Regions from separate parts of the Homo sapiens genome. Here region 2 is linked to region 1. Evidence: fine-mapped expression QTL. Tissue or cell type: whole blood. Region 1 holds a variant in brackets; the other region holds the start of a gene. All regions are shown on one strand. Distances are between the middles of the regions. Region 1 has its middle 16 kb from the start of CD9. Region 2 holds the start of VWF (von Willebrand factor).

Region 1 (3,024 bases):
AAGCATTAGATTTTTATTTTAAATTTCATTTAAAAATAGATCATTTGTTTATATAACTGAAAAATAAAGATACAAGAGAGGGAAACGTGTTTCTCCTGGAAACTGTTAATCTGTAACAGAGATTTAGGAGTTCTGTCCACCAAGGGCAACGTGTGGGCCTGATTCTTGAATCCTGATGCAGACAGACCAGTTATTAAAAAAAAGGTTTTGTAGGCAGTTAGGGAAATTTAAATATGGACTAAGGACTAGATGATGTTAAGGAAATATTGTTAACTTTCTTACGTGTGATGATGGCATTGTGGTTATGTGTTTTTTGTTTTTGTTTTTTTTTCTCTCTGAGACGGAGTCTCGCTCTGTCGCCCAGGCTGGAGTGCAGTGGCGCGATCTCGGCACACTGCAAGCTCCGCCTCCCGGGTTCACGCCATTCTCCTGCCTCAGCCTCCCCAGTAGCTGGGACTACAGGCGCCCGCCACTACGCCCAGCTAATTTTTTTGTATTTTTAGTAGAGACAGGGTTTCACCGTGTTAGCCAGGATGGTCTCGATCTCCTGACCTCGTGATCCGCCCGCCTCGGCCCCCCAAAGTGCTGGGATTACAGGCATGAGCCACTGCGCCCGGCCATGGTTATGTTTCTGAGAAAACCGTATCTCTTAGAGATACACGCTGCAGTTTTTATGGGTAGAATGATATGATGTCTGGGATTTGCTTTAAATTGTTCAGTCCCCTTCCCAAAAAGTGGAGAGATAAAATGCAATAAGAATGCAAAATCGTTGATGCTGAGCGATGAGTATATGGGATTCATTATACTGTTCTCTCTACTTTTGCGTGTGTTTGAACACTTGCATAACGACAGCAAAAATCTCCATCCAGTCTTGTCCCCATCAGGCTAGCTCTTCCCCAATACTGGTTCCTTAATGTATCCTTCATTATGCAAATACTAGTATATATTGTTATTCTCCCCATTTAAGAATTTTTTAACACCAGAAGAAGCACCTTGCTACTGATTCGGCACCTTGCTCTTTTCTCTCTCTCTCTCTTTTTTTTTTTTTTTTTAGTAGAGTTTTGTTTGTTTGTTTTTAGTAGAGACGGGGTTTCACTGTGTTAACCAGGATGGTCTCGATCTCCTGACCTTGTGATCCACCCGCCTTGGCCTCCCAAAGTGCTGGGATTACAGGCGTGAGCCACCACACCCAGCCAATTTTTTTGTATTTTTAGTAGAGATGGGGTTTTGCCATGTTGGCCAGGCTGGTCTTGAACTCCTGACCTCAGGTGATCCGCCCGCCTCAGCCTTCCAAAGTGCTGAGATTACAGGTGTGAGCCACCGCGCCTGGCCTCTTTTCTCTCCTTTTTATATGGCTGGCAGGATAATGGCCCCCACAAAGGTGACCACACCTTAATCCCTGCCAGGTGTGCATGTTACCTTACTTGGCAAAAAGAACTTTGCAGATGTGATTAAGGACTTTGAGATGGGGAGAGTATCCTGAATTATCCAAGTGGGCTCAATCTAATCCTATGGATCCTTAAAGTCAGATAATCTTTCCTGGCTGTGGTCAGAGGGAACTGGGACAAAGGGTTAGAGAGACATGACAATGGTGGCTTTGCAGACAGAGGAGGGGCCAGGAGCCAAGGAATGCAGGCAGCCTCTAGAAGCTGGGAAAGGCAAGGAAAGGGATTCTCCCCTGCAGCCTCCAGAGGGGAACACAGCCCTGCCCACACTGAGATTTTAGCCCAGTGAGACCCACATGTCAGACTGCTGACCTCCAGAAGTGTGCAATAAATATGTGTTAAAC[T/C]TGTGATAATATGCTATAGCAACAATAGAAAACAACGGCATGATATCTCGGAGAGATTTCCGTATCAGTGCAGAAATTGAAGCAGCATCAGTTCCTTATGGTTCTACACGGGGTCTGGAGTCCAACAGATCTGGGCTTGAGTCCAGGCTCTGCCACACACTAGTTATATAATTCTGGGCAAGTTACATCACCTCTCTGAGCCTGCCTCCTCATCTGTAAAAGGGGAATACTAAGAGCTCCTGCTTCATAGTGTTGTTCTAGGATTAAATCATACAGTGCATACAAAACACTTAGCCTGGCACATAGAGAATGCTCACGAAAGAACAGCTGGTAATATGAGTTACATAACTGTGATGATTACAACAAGGAGTGTTCCCTGAGTTCTCCTGGCCTCACTGTCCTCTCTTCTGACTCCTTGCAGACTGAGAACGCAGCACATAAATGAGCCCTTGGTTTCTGCGGTACACACCCTCTCTCGTCTTGTGTGCTTGGTTCCGTCTGTGTGCAGCCCTGTCTCCTAGACTGTGGTCAGCAGGACCCTGTTTCCAATGTCCTGGGGCTGGTCATTAGGATTGCACACCGCCCGAGGGGTTGCTCTATTAACAGACGGCTTCTGGGAGTGGCTGGACATCACTGTGCCCTCACTCTTTCCAAAGTTGAGGTTCCCTGCTTCCCACGCTAAAGGCACGTCATGGGTCCAGTGGACCCTGGCATCCTCCCACACAGCATTGATTCAGAGTGGTGGTGACCTTCAGAGTCCCTCCCAATGTCCCCAACAGCCAGCTTTTGCATGAGCTTACCCCTCCTGAGGCAGGCCACTCCACTCTTGTGCAGTCTGGTTATTGGAAAGTTTCCCTCCCTTCCCATAACCTTTGTCCATGTCCTGCCCTCTGAAGCCACATGGGATGAGTCTGCCACCCCTTCCTAGTAGCAGCCCTTTGGCCTTCCAGAGGAGACTTGCAGGGGCCTGTCCCAGCCCTGCCTCTTTGTGGCTGGGTGGCCCCAGGGTTACAAGAGTTTTTGGTTTGTTGGTTGGTTTGTTTTTGAGACAGAGTTTCACTCTTATTGACCAGGCTGGAGTGCAGTGGCGCAATCTCGGCTCACTGCAACCTCTGCCTTCCGGTTTCAAGCGATTCTCCTGCCTCAGCCTCCTGAGTAGCTGGGATTACAGGTGCCCACCATCACGTCCGGCTAATTTTTGTATTTTTAGTAGAGACAGGGTTTCATCATGTTGG
Region 2 (2,722 bases), 60 kb after region 1:
AGCACAGCATTTAAAGATATTTTGTAATGAAAGGGTTTTCAGATTAGTTATTTAGTTTTTTTAAATAAGAGCTGGAAGTGGAAATCCCGATGGCCTTTTCTTTTCTTTTCTTTTTTTTCTTGAGACGGAGTCTTGCTCTGTCACCCAGGCTGGAGTGCAGTGGCTCGATCTCAGCTCACTGCAAGCTCCGCCTCCCGGGTTCACGCCATTCTCCTGCCTCAGCCTCCCGAGTAGCTGGGACTACAGGCGCCCGCCACCACGCCTGGCTAATTTTTTGTGTTTTTAGTAGAGACGGGGTTTCACTATGTTAGCCAGGATGGTCTTGATCCCTTGACCTCGTGATCCGCCCACCTCGGCCTCCCAAAGTGCTGGGATTACAGGCGTGAACCACCGTGCCCGGCCCCCCAATGGCCTTTTCTACTGTCTCATGCTGATTCTGCCTCTGGTGCCATTTTTCTTCCTTGGGAGTGTGCATCTTCCTCTCCTGGGGCGGTAAAGGGAGTAGCAGAGTGCGAGGTATGTGGGAAGGGAGGAGGTTGGAACCTAGTGGTTTCTCAAAGTCTTAGGGCAGGAGGTATCATGGAGAAGCAGTGAGGAGGTCTTCCATACCCAGACATGCCTCAGGGTGCTTGTCTCAGTGCCTGGAATCCCAGCACGAGAGTCATCTTCCCCCCACCGCTGCCCATTGCATCAGTTACTTATTTTAGTAGGAATTAGTTTAGCAGATGGTGTTGAGAATTAGGCTTTTGGGAATGGGAGGCTGGGAAGAAGAATTGTGTGTGTGTGTGTGTGTGTGTGTGTGTGTGTGTGTGTGTAAGATCAGGGTACCAGAAGTGGGTGGAAATGTCCTTGAGAATTAGAATTATTAGAATGTAGCAACAGTAGAAGTATTAGACTCAAACCATCACTCCCCACCTTCACCATTTTACAAAGGCTTAGGCTTGTGGCCAAGACCTTCATCTTTAGCCGATCCATTCAACCCTGGCCAGGATCCAAATGGACTGTTTTTGTCAGGGCCAGGACCGGATCCTTCATACCTGGGGTGCATAGGAAGTGTTAGTACTCCCCTTCCTCCAAACACAGCAGCAAAATTGGCTCAGGTTGAGGTGTTTTTCTCAACTTCCCTGGAGTCCAGCCCTGGAAGCTGGATCAGGAAGCTGTGTTGTTCTACTGTGATTCCCCCTGGCCTGTATCAGCTTGCCCTGAAACAACCAGCATTCCTGGTTATCCCACACAGGTGGGGCACTCTAGGAAGACCAGGGATCAAGTGTGGGGGTGTAGGGATAGGGGGTGTTTGGGGAGGGCAAGGCAGTTAATTAAGGCAGCTGCCAGGAGGTCTCCCTCCAAACTCTACAAAGCTTTATCAGCTTGGAGGTACTTCTAATACCATTTCCTTTCATTGTTTCCTTTTGGTAATTAAAAGGAGGCCAATCCCCTGTTGTGGCAGCTCACAGCTATTGTGGTGGGAAAGGGAGGGTGGTTGGTGGATGTCACAGCTTGGGCTTTATCTCCCCCAGCAGTGGGGACTCCACAGCCCCTGGGCTACATAACAGCAAGACAGTCCGGAGCTGTAGCAGACCTGATTGAGCCTTTGCAGCAGCTGAGAGCATGGCCTAGGGTGGGCGGCACCATTGTCCAGCAGCTGAGTTTCCCAGGGACCTTGGAGATAGCCGCAGCCCTCATTTGCAGGGGAAGGTATGGCCTTTGGAAGGAGAGCTGGCTCAGTTGTGGGAGGAAGATGCAGGACTGACTGATCCCTGCTCCTGGGGAGCTGGAGTTCTCTGTCGCTGGACTAGAAGGGCTTTGTTTGGAGGGGCAATTCAATTCAGCCAGGGATGATCCTAATACTCCCTCCTCCACTTGCCTCTGAGGGTCCTGGGGCTGCTTTTCTTCATGCAGTGGGTTTTACTGTTTGATAGTACTTCACTCAAATGAGTTGGAATGAAGTTTGCCCTCACCTCTGAGAACCTGGGAGCAGCTGAATGTACCTGCGTGTTAGGACTGGGAGGGGACACCTGCTTGGAGACCGAGACCTGGCAGTATCTGACATCTCAGTGTTCCTTCCACAGATGTATCACAGATTGGCTTGATTTCACCTTTGGCTGGATGGGACCTTAGGTAGGAAGGGAGTCACCCCCAGTGAATCTCAGGCAGCAGATTCTGCACTTCATTTAACAACTTTTCCCGAGGAGAGGGGCTACAGCAGGGGCTCTAAGTGACTTGGGGTACGCTCTGCCAGCCAGGATGAATTGTCCCTCTCTTGGGGGTCACACAGTGGGGAAGTCTGCCTGCATCCAGGGCCGCTGGACTCCTGTCCATTTTTTCAGATGAACTCAGCAAACATTTGCTGGGCATCTCCTGGGTGCTAAGCATCTTGCCAGGTGCTGGGGTTGGAGGCAAGGGAGACAGCCTTTGCTCTTGTGAAGGCACTTGTGGTACAGAGTCAGGGGCCAACAAGCAAACCGTCAAGTTGGTGGTTCCTGAGCATTCTCTATGTCTGGGCTGCTGTGGTGGGCACACAAGTGTAAGACGGTTCCTACTCGCCAGTTTGGATGCAGAGGCAGGAAGGAATGAGGTGTGTGTTAGCTCCCAGCTGCTTCAGGAGGCAGGGATGTGAGGCCCAGCGGGCCTGGAGGGAAGGCAGCGTTTTCCTCCTGTCTTGGGCCTGGGACTGCTGTCTGTGGAAAGGTGCCCACAGGTCCCAGCTCACAGCGATTGTTAC

The links. PIP is the estimated chance that this variant, and not a neighbour inherited with it, causes the effect.
Region 2: it holds the start of VWF, and the variant in region 1 is fine-mapped to the expression of VWF in whole blood (INTERVAL, PIP above 0.99).

What each region holds. Positions count from the first base shown.
Region 1 is chr12:6,182,920-6,185,943 of GRCh38, reverse strand. No RefSeq gene overlaps it. Among named protein-coding and RNA genes, the nearest start is that of CD9, 16 kb to the left of the region's middle. RefSeq lists an enhancer at 2,608-2,787. The variant T/C (reference allele first, on the strand shown) is at 1,790.
Region 2 is chr12:6,123,394-6,126,115 of GRCh38, reverse strand. It overlaps VWF (von Willebrand factor), which reads left to right and starts at 1,446. Exons shown (of 52, transcript NM_000552.5): 1 at 1,446-1,695.